Homo sapiens: one gene and its partners. The protein of the gene in region 1 interacts with the protein of each later gene in a biochemical or structural test. Each region holds a gene or a part of one and is shown in the gene's direction. Other genes may lie near its edges.

Region 1 (4,346 bases):
AGAGGCCCCCAGACGCTGCAGAGCCCACCTCCGCCTTCCTGCCGCCCACTGAGAGCCGGATGTCAGTCAGCTCCGATCCAGACCCTGCCGCCTACCCCTCCACGGCAGGGCGGCCGCACCCCTCCATCAGTGAAGAGGAAGAGGGCTTCGACTGCCTGTCGTCCCCAGAGCGGGCTGAGCCCCCAGGCGGAGGGTGGCGGGGGAGCCTGGGGGAGCCGCCGCCACCTCCACGGGCCTCTCTGAGCTCGGACACCAGCGCCCTGTCCTATGACTCTGTCAAGTACACGCTGGTGGTAGATGAGCATGCACAGCTGGAGCTGGTGAGCCTGCGGCCGTGCTTCGGAGACTACAGTGACGAGAGTGACTCTGCCACCGTCTATGACAACTGTGCCTCCGTCTCCTCGCCCTATGAGTCGGCCATCGGAGAGGAATATGAGGAGGCCCCGCGGCCCCAGCCCCCTGCCTGCCTCTCCGAGGACTCCACGCCTGATGAACCCGACGTCCATTTCTCCAAGAAATTCCTGAACGTCTTCATGAGTGGCCGCTCCCGCTCCTCCAGTGAGTCAGCAAGGGGAAGCAGTGGGGTGGGGGGGTCCCTAGCGGGGGCAGAGCCAAAATGCGAAGTGTTCTGGGAGGCGACCCCAGGCCCCATCTGGTTAGGACTGAGGCTTCTACCTGCCCCGCTAAACCTGGATCAGAGCTGCGACCCCCCATCCAGCCACACCACCTCACCTGCAGGTGCTGAGTCCTTCGGGCTGTTCTCCTGCATCATCAACGGGGAGGAGCAGGAGCAGACCCACCGGGCCATATTCAGGTGAGAGCCATGGGCTGGCTGGGCCTAGCCAGGCAGCAGTTTGGGCCACACACCACCCTCTACTTGTCACCCCTACATGGCCTCAGCCTAACCCCTGCCATCAGCCTTCATTTATCCACTCAGCCCTGGGAGGACAGTGTCCACTCTCTAGGGACTCAGAGTATGGTGACAAAGAGGATGGCTACAGTGAGGGATCCCAGAACTGTGCACCTAGTCTGGCCAGGGGCAGGGCACCCAGGAGGGTGACCAGGAGGATGCCTGCCCACACCCCACCTGACCCTTCTCTAGACAAAAGCCTGCGCTTCCCACAGCCTCTCCATTTTAGAGGGGGCCCTGCCCACACCCTCCCTTGGCCTGTGTTTCCTCGATGGCAGATGCATGTCTGCTTGACCTTGCTCTCCCCTGGGGTTAGTACTGCAACAGGCACACAGGATGCTTTTGCAAATGTTTACTGAAATAACGATGCTGCTGTGGCTCCCAGACCCCAGAGTAGGCCTGGCTGGACAGGCCTTGGTGCCGAATTTCTCACCTGTCCTTGCTGGGGACAGGTTTGTGCCTCGACACGAAGACGAACTTGAGCTGGAAGTGGATGACCCTCTGCTAGTGGAGCTCCAGGCTGAAGACTACTGGTACGAGGCCTACAACATGCGCACTGGTGCCCGGGGTGTCTTTCCTGCCTATTACGCCATCGAGGTCACCAAGGAGCCCGAGCACATGGCAGGTAGTGTTCCCTCCCTGGCCTGTGCCCCCAGCCACCACATCTGTCTGCCCCAACTTGCTGCTAGGTGAACGTGTACTCCAGATCTCAGCCAGCCAGGTGGGGGGCTGAGTGGAAGTGATTTTAGGTCCTTTTCACGATCAAGCAAAGTGAGGCCCGGCCAAGTTGGGCAGCCAGGGATTGTGGCAGCCTCTGTGGGCTCTGCCATTCCCCGTGCCTCACCCACCCTCCTTCACTTGGCTGCTCAGCTCCCTCCTGCTCTTTCTGCCCCTCCTCAATTCACGCTTGCTTTCCAGCCCTGGCCAAAAACAGTGACTGGGTGGACCAGTTCCGGGTGAAGTTCCTGGGCTCAGTCCAGGTTCCCTATCACAAGGGCAATGACGTCCTCTGTGCTGCTATGCAAAAGGTACCTGAGCCCTCTCCCTTCTCCTCCCTTGGATGGGTCCCTGGGGCAGAGGGACGCAGGTGTCTAGAGGCAGTAAAGGGCTCAGGCCCTGGGACAGGAGGGATCAGCAGAGGAACAGACAGCAGCTGACGTGGCTCCATTTGTCACCTGTAGATTGCCACCACCCGCCGGCTCACCGTGCACTTTAACCCGCCCTCCAGCTGTGTCCTGGAGATCAGCGTGCGGGGTGTGAAGATAGGCGTCAAGGCCGATGACTCCCAGGAGGCCAAGGTGACTTCTTCCAACCCAGCCCCTTCCTTCCATGGCCCCAAGCTCTCCCCCAAGACTTGTGATGAAGAGGCCATCTCCTGTCACCCTCACTGCAGGCCAGGTGACCGCCCTCTTGCTTCTTTTCTCCCTCCTGTAGGGGAATAAATGTAGCCACTTTTTCCAGTTAAAAAACATCTCTTTCTGCGGATATCATCCAAAGAACAACAAGTAAGTGGGGGTGGGATGGCAGTGGAGGAGGCACGGGTGGTCTGCAGCCTTGAGGTGGGTGGGTGTGGGCCGAGCCCCCGTCCCAGCACAGACAGACCTGTCCCTGCAGGTACTTTGGGTTCATCACCAAGCACCCCGCCGACCACCGGTTTGCCTGCCACGTCTTTGTGTCTGAAGACTCCACCAAAGCCCTGGCAGAGTCCGTGGGGTACGTGTACACCCTGCTGAGCACCCAGCCCGAGGGAGCACGCCCAATCCCAGGCCCTGGGGCTGCTTCCTGGCGCTCAGCTTTGCCCCTCGGTTTCCCCCGCAGCTCTGGAGAACTATCTCCGGACCCCAGTGCGGGTGGCCTGGAGGGAGGGTGGCGCGGCAGGGTGAGCCTGAGGAGCAGCTTCCAAGCTTGGTAGCTGTTGGGCCATGTCTTCAACTGACATCTTACTGGGAAACGCGATGGCAATTCTGTAGAGAACAGAGCCAAGTGGCCCCAGCCAGAGGAACCAGAGCTGCACTTGGGCCCCAAGGCTCCAGCGGGAAAACCCTGGGTCGGGATCCTGTTCCTCCCTTGCCAGTGGCGATCTGAGCCATCTGTGTGTCCCCTGGCTTCTAGGAGAGCATTCCAGCAGTTCTACAAGCAGTTTGTGGAGTACACCTGCCCCACAGAAGATATCTACCTGGAGTAGCTGTGCAGCCCCGCCCTCTGCGTCCCCCAGCCCTCAGGCCAGTGCCAGGACAGCTGGCTGCTGACAGGATGTGGCACTGCTTGAGGAGGGGCACCTGCCACCGCCAGAGGACAAGGAAGTGGGGGCCGCTGGCCCAGGGTAGGGGAGGGTGGGGCAATGGGGAGAGGCAAATGCAGTTTATTGTAATATATGGGATTAGATTCATCTATGGAGGGCAGAGTGGGCTGCCTGGGGATTGGGAGGGACAGGGCTTGGGGAGCAGGTCTCTGGCAGAGAAGGATGTCCGTTCCAGGAGCACACGGCCCTGCCCCATCCTGGGCCTTACCTCCCCTGCCAGGGCTCGGGCGCTGTGGCTCCTGCCTTGATGAAGCCCGTGTCCTGCCTTGATGAAGCCTGTGCCACCTGCAAGTGCCCGCCCTGCCCCTGCCCCAACCCCCACCGAAGAGCCCTGAGCTCAGGCTGAGCCCAGCCACCTCCCAAGGACTTTCCAGTGAGGAAATGGCAACACGTGGAGGTGAAGTCCCTGTTCTCAGCTCCGTCATCTGCGGGGCTTCTGGGTGGCTCCTGCCACTGACCTCACCGGCATGCTGGCCTGTGGCAGGCCTAGGACCTCAGGCGGGGAGGAGGAGCTGCCGCAAGGCCCTGTCCCAGCAGAAGAGGGAGGCTTCCTGACTGACACAGGCCAGCCCCATCTTGGTCCTGTCACCCTGGCCCCAACTATTAAAGTGCCATTTCCTGTCTGGACTGCAGTGGATGTATCTGCATGGGCCCCTCCCGTCCCCGTCTCGCTCCCAGCCCAGGAAAGCCAAGCCTTTGTCACACATGGTATCTTTATGAGGGCCTTGGGTCATAGGTGTGCATCATAGTAATACTCGGCAAGGTCGGGCCCGTCCCGCTTGCGCTGCTGGGCCCTAGACAGGAGGGGTCGAGGCCCTCGCGGCCTTGGGTGCTTGGGGAGGATGCCATAGTCTAAAGAGAGAAAAGAGGGCATGGGTGGTAGGGGGCAGCTGGCTCTGATGGAACTGAAGTCACCCTTGAACAGATGTGGTTTGGGATGACAAGCCCCTGAAGGCTGGACTTGGGGCACCTCTTAGGGGCGTCTCCACTGTCAGGGATGGGTAGGGGAAGGGGACAAGAGAGATACTACCATCCACCAGGCCGGAAAGTGGCTGCGAGAGTTCCAGGGGGGCGGAAAATGCCTCAGGAACAGACCGCTGAGACCTGTGGGAGATGTCGGGGTGCTCAGCCCTG
Region 2 (7,031 bases), on another chromosome or scaffold:
AGGGTTTGCTGTGCCTTAGTGACAGCCAGTTTATTCCTTTGTATAGCTGAGGCTCAACTACAGCTCGCCTGAGGTCACATAGCCATTATGTGGCAGAAGCAAGTCAGGATTCAGGGTTTTTGTTTGTTTGTTTGTTTTTTGAGACGGGGTTTGGCTACTTCGCCCAGGCTGGGATTCAGTGGCTTACTGCAACCTCCGCCACCTGGGCTCAAGCAATCATCTCACCTCAGCCTCCAGAGGAGCTGGGACCACAGTCACAGGATCACCATGCCCAGCTTTGTTGTTTTTTGTTTGTTTGTTTGTTTCTATTTTTGGTAGAGACAGGGTTTTGCCATGTTGCCCAGGCTGGTCTCAAACTTTTTTTTTTTTTTTTTTTTTTGAGACAGAGTTTCACTCTGTCGCCCAAGGCTGGAGTGCAGTGGTGTGATCTTGGCTTACTGCAACCTCACCTCTGGGGTTCAAGTGATTCTCCTGCCTCAGCCTCCCGAGTAGCTGGGATTACAGGCATCCACCACCACGCCCAGCTAATTTTTTCTTTTTAAGTAGAGACAGGGTTTCGCCATGTTGGCCAGGCTGGTCTCAAACTCCTGACCTCAAGCGATCCACCCACCTCAGCCTCCCAAAGTGCTAGGATTACAGGCGTGAGCCACTGCGCCCAGCCAAGGTCTCAAACTCTTGAGCTCAAGTGATCCACCTGCCTCAGCCTCCCAAAGTGTTGAGATTACAGGCATGAGCCAACACACCGTGCCAGATTCAGGTTTTTTAATGGTTGCTTTTTATTTATTTATATATTTTTTTAGACAGAGTTTCGCTCTTGTTGCCCAGGCTGGAGTGCAGTGGCATGATCTTGGCTCACCAAAACCTCAGCCTCCCGGGTTTAAGCAATTCTTCTGCCTCAGCCTCCCAAGTAGCTGGGATTACAGGCATGTGCCACCACGCCTAGCTAATTTTGTATTTTTAGTAGAGACGGGGTTTCTCCATGTTGACCAGACTGGTCTCGAATTCCTGACCTCAGGTGATCCGCCCGCCTCGGCCTCTGAAAGTGCTGAGATTACAGGTGTGAGCCACTGCACCCGGCCTAATGGTTGCTTTTTAAATAGCACCCAGCTATGAACTGGGACACATCTCCATTGCCTGGAAAGTTTGGGGAGCAGAGGATGGGGCAATGGAGAAGAGGAAAGAGAAGACAAGACCTTGTTTGACCCCTGGGAGAGCCGCTGGACTGAAGGGAGGGCCAAGGGGGATGAAGCAGTGGCCTTCTGTGACAGTGTCTGCATCCCCATTGGCTGCTTCTGCCTTTTTCCCCACCTGTGCTGGGGGGACAGAACTCTGTGGTTACAACCTTCACTTACCTTGGAGAGGCCCAGGGGTGTGTTTTAGAATGAGGCTCTCACCTGAGTTGAGTGTTCCTGAGAGGGCCTCAGTAGTACCGTGTGTAAGTACCTGGGTGGGAGGCCCGGGTGCATCGCCTGTGTGTAGGCAGCTCAAGAATGCTGTCCAAGGGTGTCTGAAAGGTTTACCAGCATCCTGTGTGTGCTTCAATGTGAAGGAGGTCTAGGTGTTACTATTGTGTGCCTGAGGTTGACCCCGAGGTAAAGGTGTAAATGTGAGACCCTTCTGATACCTGTGTGTGCCTGTGAGTCTCGGGTGAAAAAAATGTGCTGCAGCAATGAATTAGTCATCTTACAGGGAGAAGGGAACTCATCTGTTACCATTACTCTTGAATTTGAGACATATTTTACCAGTGTGTACCCACGTGGGGCTGTTACCTGAGAATGATACTCAGGTACGATACCTGTCTACCTATTACTTGCCTTACTAACATGCCTGAGAGGAAGCCCAAGTGTATCAGATTTCCTAAGATGGCTCAAGGTGCAATTTGGAGGGCCATGGGAAACGGAGCCACAAGTGTTACCTCCAGCGGGGCTACTGTGAACCCAGCACCCCAGTCTGTGCCTCTGGGATAAGTGTCCTGAGCAGGCAGTCCTGGGGCTTTAACAGCCCAGCCCCTCCTTCCTTCATTCCCACAGGGCCCAGTGTTCACCATCATACCAGGGGCCAGAGGCGATGGCTTGCCTCCATGAGACCCGAACACCCTCTCCTTCCTTTGGGGGCTTTGTGTCTACCCTAAGTGAGGCATCCATGCGCAAGCTGGACCCAGACACTTCTGACTGCACTCCCGAGAAGGACCTGACGCCTACCCAGTGTGTACTTCGAGATGTGGTACCCCTTGGTGGGCAGGGTGGGGGAGGGCCCAGCCCCTCCCCAGGTGGAGAGCCGCCCCCTGAGCCTTTTGCCAACAGTGTCCTGCAGCTACATGAGCAGGATGCAGGGGGCCCAGGGGGAGCAGCTGGGTCACCTGAGAGTCGGGCATCCAGAGTTCGAGCTGACGAGGTGCGACTGCAGTGCCAGAGTGGCAGTGGCTTCCTTGAGGGCCTCTTTGGCTGCCTGCGCCCTGTCTGGACCATGATTGGCAAAGCCTACTCCACTGAGCACAAGCAGCAGCAGGAAGGTAGGCCACGTCCTTGTGGGAGCCTCCTCTCTGTTTCCCTGAGCCCGAGATCTGTTGGTCAGCTCCGCTAAAGTCACGCAATGGTCCCTTCCCTCCCCATGGCCCAGCCCTAGTCCCTTAGCCATCCATCAGCCTCTAACTTCCCAGCTTCTTTTAAGGCCACCCATTCATTCCTTCCCTGTCCCCTCGAACCTTCTTCTTGGCCTATTTTTGGCTTTCTGCCTCACCCTCCTTAAGTCAATTCAGCCAACCCAATGCTATCCTGTCCCTGGCCTTGAGTGTGGCTCTTTCTGAGGCTTGTGGCACTGTGCCTCCTGCCCACAGACCTTTGGGAGGTCCCCTTTGAGGAAATCCTGGACCTGCAGTGGGTGGGCTCAGGGGCCCAGGGTGCTGTCTTCCTGGGGCGCTTCCACGGGGAGGAGGTGGCTGTGAAGAAGGTGCGAGACCTCAAAGAAACCGACATCAAGCACTTGCGAAAGCTGAAGCACCCCAACATCATCACTTTCAAGTGAGGTCCAGGGCAGGGGCTGGGTGTTGGGGATACTATGCTAAGGCCTGGTACCCTCCTGGGCAGTGGGACCTACCCCATCCTTCCCCAGAGGAGATCCATAGGTGGAATGGGTGGGAATGGGGGTTCCAGGTATGAATCAGGTGAATGCTGAGCCAGCTGAGGCCTTCATACCATTGTTTGGCTCCCAGGGGTGTGTGCACCCAGGCTCCCTGCTACTGCATCCTCATGGAGTTCTGCGCCCAGGGCCAGCTGTATGAGGTACTGCGGGCTGGCCGCCCTGTCACCCCCTCCTTACTGGTTGACTGGTCCATGGGCATCGCTGGTGGCATGAACTACCTGCACCTGCACAAGATTATCCACAGGGATCTCAAGTCACCCAAGTGAGTAAGCAAGCAGGGAGCAACAGATGTGCATGCAGGTGACCCACTCAAGTCAGTGTGGCCTTCTCCCGGCTTCCAAACCATGCCCTAGGTCCATGTGGCCATCTCAGAAACCTCTTCCAAGTGACAGTCCCATCTCAGAAGGGCTGTAGTGAGCCCCTCACCTTTGAGTGTCCCAAATGATTTTAAACTGAAAGGCAGGCCGGATGCAGTGGCTCACGCCTGTAATCCCAACACTTTGGGAGGCCGAGGCGGGTGGATCACAAGGTCAAGAGATCGAGACCATCCTGGCCAACATGGTGAAACCTCGTCTCTAATAAAAATACAAAAAAATTAGTCAGGCGTGGTGGCGAGTGCCCGTAGTCTCAGCTACTCAGGAGGCTGAGGCAGGAGAATCACTTGAACCCAGGAGGTGGAGGTTGCAGTGAGCCGAGATTGAGCCACTGCACTCCAGCCTGAGTGACAGAGTGAGACTCCGTCTCAAACAAACAAACAAAAAAACCTGAAAGGCAGAGTTGCTGCAGAGTTAGATGAGGTGTGTGGAGGGGTGTGGACCCCAGCTGACTACACTCTTTACCAGCATGCTAATCACCTACGACGATGTGGTGAAGATCTCAGATTTTGGCACTTCCAAGGAGCTGAGTGACAAGAGCACCAAGATGTCCTTTGCAGGGACAGTAGCCTGGATGGCCCCTGAGGTGATCCGCAATGAACCTGTGTCTGAGAAGGTCGACATCTGGTGAGAACTAGGCTGAAAACTGAGAAGAGTGGGTGGCCAGCCCTGGGGGGATTGTGGGCAACTTCTAGGGCTTGAGCACAAGTGATGTCCCCTCATCCCTAGGTCCTTTGGCGTGGTGCTATGGGAACTGCTGACTGGTGAGATCCCCTACAAAGACGTAGATTCCTCAGCCATTATCTGGGGTGTGGGAAGCAACAGTCTCCATCTGCCCGTGCCCTCCAGTTGCCCAGATGGTTTCAAGATCCTGCTTCGCCAGTGCTGGTAAGGATGGTCTGGGCTGGGATACTGGGCCTGGAGAAGTTGAGAAGCACGGTAGTACTGGGCTGGACTGACCAATAAATGGCAGGGGTACATTTAATTCAAAGAGACTGACTTTCATCTGAATCAGGCTCATGCTACCTTCTGAGCTGAGTCACCAGGGGTAATTGGTATCTACTCTGAACCTGTTTCCTCATCTATAAAATACACTTAACGATATCTGCATTCCTGATTTGTCATGAAGTGCCAGTGAGTGCATACAAGTACAAGGAAGGAGCAGCATAACCACCAAGCATGGTTGGTTGAGCCTCAAGTAAACAACCTTAGAACACAGAAGGAAAGGACCCCAGACCCTCATTTGGAACCTAGACCCAGGGAAGTTTGACGATTGCTAATCTGTCACTGAGCATTTCCCAAAATGTGGTTCCTTCAATGAAGTTATTCAGAAAAGGCTTTTATTTTGGGAGACAAGTTGGAAAATATGGGGTTCAATAGGTTTCCTTACTGCAGGATTTTGACACACTAATGAATAGTGTGTAATATTCTCTAGAGACAGTTGACCATAAGTTCTTTTGTCACAGAGTACATTCTAGGATTGGATTCTCCAGGACACACTTTGGGAAAGGATGCTCCAGTTCCTATCTGATCCTCCCTCAAATTCTCCCCTCTCCTTCCTAACTCCATTCCTTTCAGGAATAGCAAACCACGAAATCGCCCATCATTCCGACAGATCCTGCTGCATCTGGACATTGCCTCAGCTGATGTACTCTCCACACCCCAGGAGACTTACTTTAAGTCCCAGGTGTGCTGTGGGTAGGAAAATAAATACCTAACTCCCCTTCTTTGCAGAGATGATGCTATTTGAGGGGGAGGCTGGGAAATGGGTTGAGTGGGACTGAAGAGATTGGCTCTTAGAGGGCTGAGTCAATCCACTCCTTTTTGCTCCAGCACACACATTGGCAGTGGTGTGGGCAACCTGCAGAGCCTTTCACTGGGTGAAGGGATGGCTCTCACTCTTCATCTGCTCTCAACCCATAGGCAGAGTGGCGGGAAGAAGTAAAACTGCACTTTGAAAAGATTAAGTCAGAAGGGACCTGTCTGCACCGCCTAGAAGAGGAACTGGTGATGAGGAGGAGGGAGGAGCTCAGGTGAGTTCCCGTGCTTGGGGAGGTGATTTTACTAACAGCAAGGACTATGCACCCAGTCAGCTCCTACCCAGCCCCAGGGCGGGTGGAAGGACTACGAAAGGACTGTGGACAGGAATTCTGAGACTGAGATCTGTTATGGCCCTAGGTGAACCCAGTTCACCTTGGGGAACCTTTCTGCCCGTTGCAGACACGCCCTGGACATCAGGGAGCACTATGAAAGGAAGCTGGAGAGAGCCAACAACCTGTATATGGAACTTAATGCCCTCATGTTGCAGCTGGAACTCAAGGAGAGGGAGCTGCTCAGGTAACCCTACCTGTCCTTATGCACCAAGCCCTGGAGCTGTGCCTGCCTTAGAGGTCCTACTGAGACTGGGGTGCCCCTTCCTGGTCATTTGCCCAGCTGAGAAGGTGCCTGGATCTTTAGGCGAGAGCAAGCTTTAGAGCGGAGGTGCCCAGGCCTGCTGAAGCCACACCCTTCCCGGGGCCTCCTGCATGGAAACACAATGGAGAAGCTTATCAAGAAGAGGAATGTGCCACAGAAGCTGTCACCCCATAGCAAAAGGTGGGACATGAGTACTGTGGTTCCAATATGGCAAGAGGGATACTGAAGTGGCAACAGGTATATTAGCAGGGAGATGTGTACTTTAGTGTCCAAGGTTAGGGAGTGCTTTGAGTACATAGATTTGGCAGTCTTAACCTTTTACTTTTCCTCTTCTTCCAGGCCAGATATCCTCAAGACGGAGTCTTTGCTCCCTAAACTAGATGCAGCCCTGAGTGGGGTGGGGCTTCCTGGGTGTCCTAAGGGCCCCCCCTCACCAGGACGGAGTCGCCGTGGCAAGACCCGTCACCGCAAGGCCAGCGCCAAGGGGAGCTGTGGGGACCTGCCTGGGCTTCGTACAGCTGTGCCACCCCATGAACCTGGAGGACCAGGAAGCCCAGGGGGCCTAGGAGGGGGACCCTCAGCCTGGGAGGCCTGCCCTCCCGCCCTCCGTGGGCTTCATCATGACCTCCTGCTCCGCAAAATGTCTTCATCGTCCCCAGACCTGCTGTCAGCAGCACTAGGGTCCCGGGGCCGGGGGGCCACAGGCGGAGCTGGGGATCCTGGCTCACCACCTCCGGCCCGGGGTGACACCCCACCAAGTGAGGGCTCAGCCCCTGGCTCCACCAGCCCAGATTCACCTGGGGGAGCCAAAGGGGAACCACCTCCTCCAGTAGGGCCTGGTGAAGGTGTGGGGCTTCTGGGAACTGGAAGGGAAGGGACCTCAGGCCGGGGAGGAAGCCGGGCTGGGTCCCAGCACTTGACCCCAGCTGCACTGCTGTACAGGGCTGCCGTCACCCGAAGTCAGGTAAAGTATGGGAAGGCTCCCAAGCTCTTTCCCTTTTTCCTTATCCTCCCTGGGGTCCAAGTCTAATCCCCCACATTATGCTCAATTTTAAGCCATTCCCTACTTCACCCTTCGTAACTATGTTCCCTTCTCCTGGA
Region 3 (7,031 bases), on another chromosome or scaffold:
CTGGATTTCACTCTAACTGGGGGGAAACCATTGAGGGCTCTGAGTAGGGAAGGGACATGGTGTGACATTTTATTCTGACTGCAGTATTGAGAACAGACTGTAGAGGACAAGGGAGAAGGCAGGGAAACCACTTAAGAGGTCATTGCAATAATCCAGAAGCGAGGTGATGGTGGCTGAACCCTTATTCCCACATTATTACTGTGGGAATAATGAAAAGTGGACAGACTGCAGATATAGTGCAAAGGCCAGCCAACAGGATTTGCTTATGAATTGAATGTGGAATGTGGAAAAAAAAGTTACAGCAACTGAAAAAATAAGATTGCTACGTATGGGCTTGGGAAAGATGGTGAGGGAAGCAGGTTTGGAGGAATCTTAGGCTGTTTTGGACATGTTATGTTTAAGAAAACTGGTTAGGTATCCAAGTAGAGATATTGAGAAGGCAGCTGGATATATGAGTCTGGAGTTCATATGCAAGTTAAATACAATATACAACAGATAAATTATAACAATACAGCAGCCATAATACTGACATGTAGCCCATAAACCCAAAAACTGTAACACCCAAACTGTACAATATGTAACTCATACATTAGTATATCACATATAACGTGTAACCTGTTCTTGCCCCCATATAGAACACATGTAATACATGACACAGATTATGTACATGCACTGGAGACAACATGCAACTACCCATGCATATACAAAATCCACACACATGAATATTTCAAGTGCAGTTACATAAAATCTCAAATCATAAACACAGGGGGTTCCTGTCACAGTCACAGCTGTCATTTAAGATCACTCCAACATGCCCCTTTAACCTGGCTCCTGCCTTCAGGGAGGTGAAGTGTCATTACTGTCATTTTGGGGTGAGGGAAATCACAGCTTGTCAGTGGCAGAGCTGGCCTGTAACTCAGCTTTCATCCTTGCCCCTTCCTGCACCTTGAGCCCATTCTCCATGCTATTTGTACCACACTTCTGTCTCACTCCCACCCTGCTTTGAATTAGTCTCCATCACTACACACAGGTCACACACCCAGCCCCAGGCCCTACCTGACTCTGTGCTGGTCCCATCCTCCAGGGAGCACATTAGCTTGGCAAAGATGCACAGTGACAGGGACTGGTGGCTGGCAGAAGTGTCAGCTGGAAAACAAGAGAAGGAGGCACAGGGAGCTTGAGGGGCAGGTGTTACTAGGAGCAGCCCCTCAGACAGTGTTGGTGCCTGAGAGTGGCCCAATACATCTAGAAACAGCCTGTGGGAGCTGGTGCTAGGCCCTCAGAGGCCCATGGGACAGTGTCCTCCCATATGGAGTAGCCAGGAAAGTCTAGGTCACTTATTTATCATCTTAAAATCTAACCCTAAATCTAAGAAAAATACAGGTTTTGTGTATACATGAGCAGTTTATGTTGTCTCTACTGCATATATATAATCTGTGTTGTATATCATATATGTCCCATCTCTGCCATTGGCTCAGGATAGAGAACAAACTCACCCAGCTCATAGGACCTTTTGTGATCTGGCCCCTGCCAATCTCTGAAGCTCATCTCTTGCTATGTCCCCAATACTTTCTATCCTGAATCATCTTTTTTTTTTTCCTTTGAGACAGAGTCTCTGTCACTCAGGCTGGAGTGCAGTGGCACAATCATGGCTCACTGCAGCCTTAACCTCCCGGGCTCAAATGATTCTCCCACTTCAGCCTCCTGAGTAGCTGGGACTACAGGCATGTGCCACCATGCCCAGCTAATTTTTTTTTTATTTTTATTTTTAGAGATGGGATTTTGCCATATTACCCAGGCTAGTCTCAAACTCCTGGCCTCAAGCGATGTGCCAGCCTCAGCCTCCTAAAGTGCTGGGATTACAGGTGTGAGCCACTGTGCCTGGCCCCTAGTTATCTTTCTAAGACACTTACTTGCTCAGGTAGTTCCTTCTTGAACCACAGCAGTAGGGCCCAAGCAGAGAAGATGATAGTTGCTGGAAAGAAATACATAGTAGGTGGAAGGGACAACCTGAGCAAAGGCTCTGAGGCAGGAAGCCCATCCATGGCTAGGTAATGGTATCTGGTAGGTGGAATCAAGCTATGTTGGAGAGGCGAGTAATGAGGCTGGACAGGGAACTTGGGGTCACACTGTGGAAGGCTTTCAGTGCAGGCCTAAGGAGAAAATGGGGAGCCATAAAAGATTTTGGAGAAGTTTGTATCTAATAAAAAGAATAAGAATCTTCCTGCTATGCGTGGTGCTCTGCATCTTCTGCTTTCTGTACTCATTATTTCATCTGCTCCTGCAACCTGTAAAGTAGGAATTGTCACTACTATTTTAAGGAAAATGGATGTGTCAGCCAGCAAGCCAGTGGCAGAGTCTTGGTCTCCAGGCTCCCTGCCTCTTGCACTGACTCTTTCTCTTTCAACCTCCCTGCATGACAGCTGGCAAGAGCCCATCCCTAATCTTCACCAACCGGCACGAGGTGCGGAGGATCGACCTGGTGAAGCGGAACTATTCACGCCTCATCCCCATGCTCAAGAATGTCGTGGCACTAGATGTGGAAGTTGCCACCAATCGCATCTACTGGTGTGACCTCTCCTACCGTAAGATCTATAGGTGAGCGGCCATATCCTCTGCAGCAAGGCATGAAGAGTGGGGGTGAGGGGTGGTGACAGGTGAGGAGGGGAGGAGTGGTGTCTGCCTCTAGAGCTCCTCAGGACAGAGTTGGGACTTGGGAAGAGATGCAGGATCACAGTGGATATGGAACTTCTGGGACTTTACTGGGGCTGGAGTAGTCTGAGGGCTCCCTTGGGTTAGCAGCTTTGAGCCCCAAACACCTGGGATTTGTCTGACCTCTGGAGGCCTAATATGGAAGCACAAGACACAGGAACTGTTTGGCCAGGGCAGAAAGGAAGAAATCCTGGCTTTGGGGAGGACTTTCCAAGCAGCTCACATCCCTGTGTGTTGGAACCTGGGGACTTAGACCTGGTCCCTGCCCAGAGGATCCCACTCACAACACAGTGACATCCATTTGTGATGATCATGAGAAAGTACAGAGGAGGCCTCCGAACCCACCTGGGCATCTGATCTGGCATGCCTTCCTGGATGGCATCACCCCAAGGCCAGCTTTTCACTGTCTTTGACGCCACAGTCAGTGGACCTGGTGCTTGGGAAGCTCTTCACACACTGGAGGAGGTTCTCTCCTAGGACTTTCTCAGATGCCAGCACCTGCCCCACTGCATGTCTGGGCCCTCTTCAGGCAGTCATGTCCTTTCTTTGTCCTGAGATCCACTTGGCAGGAATGCCGATGACCAGGCGCTGGGTAGACACTGAGTCACTGATGAAAGAATGATGGGACAGATGGGTGGAAGAGTGGATGGAAGCAAATATAGCAAGTGCTACTCACTGACAACTAGATTCCTGCCTCCCTGCAACATACAGACACTCCGTTCACACACACCCAAAAACATAACTAGAACAATGCCTGTCCAAGAGATGTAACTGAAAGAGGCAGGATTTGGTGACAGACTAGATATGGGGCTGATGGAAGAAATTTACTCCTTCATAGTGAATTTTGGGAGTTTCAGGTTTTTGGCTTGGGAGGTTTCATGAATGGTGGTGCTGTTCTCTGATGTGTGAAGCAGTAGAGGAGGATCAGGGCTCAGGGTTTGGGCCGTCTGGTTGGCCGAGGGGAAGGGAATGGGGATGAACAGTTTTGGACATATTGAGTTCAAGGTGTCCATGGGACATCCAAGGGGAGCTAGTTAGCTTTGCAGTCTGGATCGTAAGAGAGCTGTTGGGATTGGAGACTTAGTTATTGATGGCAGTGGACACTAAGGAACTAATCACCCAGAGAGAGGGCAAGAAGAAGAAAACCTCTGGGGAAACAGCATTTGCTATTTTGCTAATGTTGCCTCCTGAGTGTCTACTGTATTCTTAGCCCTTCTTTCCATTCTCACTGGCACGGTCATTCTTCAGACTCTCTTAATCTCCCACCCAGATGCTGTAACGTCCTCCTAACCAGTTTCCCTGCTTCATTCCCTCTCCTTCCAACCCATCCACTCCATAGATGCCACAGTGAACTAACATGCTTATTGGACTATATCCTCTGGCCTGTCTAGTTATCACTGGGGAGAAATCCTAATTCCTTGGCGTGGTACTCAAAGCCCATCAAGATGGGGTTCCTGCCTACACCTGCTTGCAGTCTGACACCCACATAAGCAGCTCCCCTAAGTATCTCACTGTTCCAGAGCAGACTCACCTCTGGCCATTTGCACAAGCCTTTCTTGTTCCCTAATGGCTTTCTGTCCTGGTGACTTCATGCTCCTGGTGAACTCGTCCTTCAGGACTCAACTATAAAGCCTTCTCCCGCCCTCTCGGATGAGGCAGTCTCCATGCCTCTGCTGCCATAGCCTCTAATGCTTTCCATAATCACATTGTATTATATCTGGCTCACCCTAATGGGCAGAGCTGTGGAGCAGCCCCACCTTAGAAAGCCAGAGACCGTGGCCCATGTAAGTCTGTACCCCTACCCTGGTACCCCAGGGAATGTGTAGAGTGGAAATTATCCACGTTCCTCTAAAAATCTATTGCCATGGCCCAGATGGAAGAGAGGGGAAGGGTGCACAGGTAGCTCCAGATGGGCCCATGGGTGGAACATCTGCCCCATGGTCATCTCTGTTTTCTCTTAAGCGCCTACATGGACAAGGCCAGTGACCCGAAAGAGCAGGAGGTCCTCATTGACGAGCAGTTGCACTCTCCAGAGGGCCTGGCAGTGGACTGGGTCCACAAGCACATCTACTGGACTGACTCGGGCAATAAGACCATCTCAGTGGCCACAGTTGATGGTGGCCGCCGACGCACTCTCTTCAGCCGTAACCTCAGTGAACCCCGGGCCATCGCTGTTGACCCCCTGCGAGGGTGAGTGTCCCAACTGAACTTCCCATTCTCCCACCATAGGTGCTCAGTCCTCTTGTGTCTGTCACAAGGGCTATCTTGAGGGTTCTAGAAAGCTCTGGGCCACTCAGACACAGGCCATGGGGAAGAAAGTCTTGTTAATCCCCAACCAAGGTTCTCTGGGCATTGGTCACCAAAGTTCTCCCTGGACTCTCCCACCCACTCGTTATATCGTAGAATTGGAGTGTCTCAGAGCAGAGTAGGGCTCTAGAGATGGCCTGATAGAAGCTCCTGGGGGAGGAAGCCTTTCTTCAGGCTGCTGTAGGTGAGCATCTGACAGCTGCTCACATACTTCCAAAGACAGGTAGCTCATTACCTCCCATAGGGCCTGTTTCACCGTGGGGCAGCTCTGCTCATTAGAAAGTGGGTCTTTTCCCCTCATAATGCCAAATCTATCTCCCTGCAACTTCCTCCATTGGCCTCTGGAGTTACATAAAACATGTCTATTCCCTGCCCTGTGAGAGAGCCAGCAAGATTTGAGGACCAAGATCACTGGTCTGTTCTGCTTCAGACTGCCTGCCTCCATCCCTACCCCTGTTGCCTATGGTCTCTGGGCCCTCACCACCTAGGTTGCCCTGCTCTGGCCACCCCTCAGTTTTGGGAGTTAGGGATTCTGAACAGAACAGGACTCCCTCTCTCCCTCAGTGTGGATATCTTGAGATGGTTTTTTTAGCGTTATATCATGTTAAGTTTAACAGAATCAACAGCTGCTTCCTACTGCTATTTCCTTGTTAAACAGGGATAAGAAAACCCTCTTCTTCGAGCAAGGGCAGCTGGTGAGGGGAGTACCACATGGGAGGTTATGTGAGGCCTTGGGAAGTGACTGATAGCTGCCATTCACTAAGCATGGGTCAGGTGCTTCCAGCACAGAACTAGGCACTCTGACAGATACGGAGCCTCTCCTCTTACCCTCACTTCATCCCTGTTCTCTGTCTGTTCTCATGCAGACCTTGTGTTGCACCTGCCACATCCTGTCCCTCACATCATAGAGTTACACCCAGCCCAACCCCAATCCACTGCGGATCGTCAGGGTCCCAGGAGGAAACCCACTGCATACTCAAGATAATCAGAGGAGGGTTTAATAAAGGGACTATTTACAAAGGAGTGGGTTAGGTCTAATTTACTACCTTGGATTAGTAACAGTGGGCTGCTACTGGCCCTAGTAGGCCTGAGGAGACAAAAGCAGGGAGGGTTACCTGAGTTAGGAAGCTCATCCACTTTCTCCTCTGAAACCAGAAAAGAGAGGGCTTACTAGGGCCTTCCCCACACTGACACCCTAGGGCTCTAGTTAGTTAGCACTGCCAGAAGTGGGAGAGATGGGGTCACAGGCTATTCAGCTGAGTCTGGGTGCAATCTCGGAGAATAGTTTTCCTCAAGTTCTCAAATGAGGTGAAGGCTAAAGTGCCTGCTAAATCTAAGATTTGATGGTTCAAAAGAACTTTAGAGGTCTTCTCAGTCCCTACTAAACATAAACCACAACTAGTCAATGGGTTATTGAGCTCTTGTGACTCAGACCACCCCGGTCATGTCCCCAGCAAGAAGGCAAATTGGGTTATTTTGTCTTTTAGGTTCATGTATTGGTCTGACTGGGGGGACCAGGCCAAGATTGAGAAATCTGGGCTCAACGGTGTGGACCGGCAAACACTGGTGTCAGACAATATTGAATGGCCCAACGGAATCACCCTGGGTGAGCCCTGCCTTTCCTGGGTTGGGGGCCTATTCTAGTGCCTTGTCCTGATCACTGTCTGGAACTCCATGAGTCTTGTTTCTGGGTCCTCTCATGGTGCCAGTGACTTTGTTTCCTAATGGTTGCCGTAGGCTGGCCTCAGTGTGAGGCCTAGAAATGTGGGCAGGGAGAGGTACAAAGGAACAGAGCTCCAGACTGGGGTCCCAGGTTCATGACCTGATCCTGCTTCCTTCCCAAGATCTGCTGAGCCAGCGCTTGTACTGGGTAGACTCCAAGCTACACCAACTGTCCAGCATTGACTTCAGTGGAGGCAACAGAAAGACGCTGATCTCCTCCACTGACTTCCTGAGCCACCCTTTTGGGATAGCTGTGTTTGAGGTGAGTCCTGTAAGGAGAGGCAAGGGCC

The links. The genes of interacting proteins can lie anywhere in the genome.
Region 2: the proteins of MAPK8IP1 (region 1) and MAP3K12 form a complex in vitro, tested with the Homo sapiens proteins (one study listed by BioGRID).
Region 3: the proteins of MAPK8IP1 (region 1) and LRP8 form a complex in vitro, tested with the Homo sapiens proteins (one study listed by BioGRID).

The regions. Positions count from the first base shown.
Region 1 is NC_000011.10:45,902,627-45,906,972, forward strand, and holds the end of MAPK8IP1 (C-Jun-amino-terminal kinase-interacting protein 1), read left to right. Parts: coding exon 1-558; intron 559-738; coding exon 739-814; intron 815-1,362; coding exon 1,363-1,535; intron 1,536-1,828; coding exon 1,829-1,938; intron 1,939-2,091; coding exon 2,092-2,208; intron 2,209-2,344; coding exon 2,345-2,415; intron 2,416-2,524; coding exon 2,525-2,623; intron 2,624-3,022; coding exon 3,023-3,095; 3' UTR 3,096-3,839; downstream 3,840-4,346. Other genes in the region: FREY1 (protein Frey 1), read right to left, coding at 3,943-4,064, 4,243-4,316. UniProt on the Homo sapiens protein: The JNK-interacting protein (JIP) group of scaffold proteins selectively mediates JNK signaling by aggregating specific components of the MAPK cascade to form a functional JNK signaling module. Required for JNK activation in response to excitotoxic stress.
Region 2 is NC_000012.12:53,482,428-53,489,458, reverse strand, and holds part of MAP3K12 (mitogen-activated protein kinase kinase kinase 12), read left to right. Parts: intron 1-2,030; 5' UTR 2,031-2,067; coding exon 2,068-2,512; intron 2,513-2,836; coding exon 2,837-3,020; intron 3,021-3,211; coding exon 3,212-3,403; intron 3,404-3,983; coding exon 3,984-4,142; intron 4,143-4,244; coding exon 4,245-4,403; intron 4,404-5,093; coding exon 5,094-5,202; intron 5,203-5,438; coding exon 5,439-5,548; intron 5,549-5,693; coding exon of another isoform or gene 5,694-5,697; exon of another isoform or gene 5,698-5,712; intron 5,713-5,735; coding exon 5,736-5,852; intron 5,853-5,972; coding exon 5,973-6,110; intron 6,111-6,269; coding exon 6,270-6,894; coding exon of another isoform or gene 6,895-6,960; exon of another isoform or gene 6,961-7,031.
Region 3 is NC_000001.11:53,262,040-53,269,070, reverse strand, and holds part of LRP8 (low-density lipoprotein receptor-related protein 8 isoform 1 precursor), read left to right. Parts: exon of another isoform or gene 1-1,146; intron 1,147-1,913; exon of another isoform or gene 1,914-1,975; intron 1,976-2,423; coding exon 2,424-2,598; intron 2,599-3,057; exon of another isoform or gene 3,058-3,319; intron 3,320-4,674; coding exon 4,675-4,902; intron 4,903-6,506; coding exon 6,507-6,625; intron 6,626-6,863; coding exon 6,864-7,003; intron 7,004-7,031. UniProt on the Homo sapiens protein: Cell surface receptor for Reelin (RELN) and apolipoprotein E (apoE)-containing ligands. LRP8 participates in transmitting the extracellular Reelin signal to intracellular signaling processes, by binding to DAB1 on its cytoplasmic tail.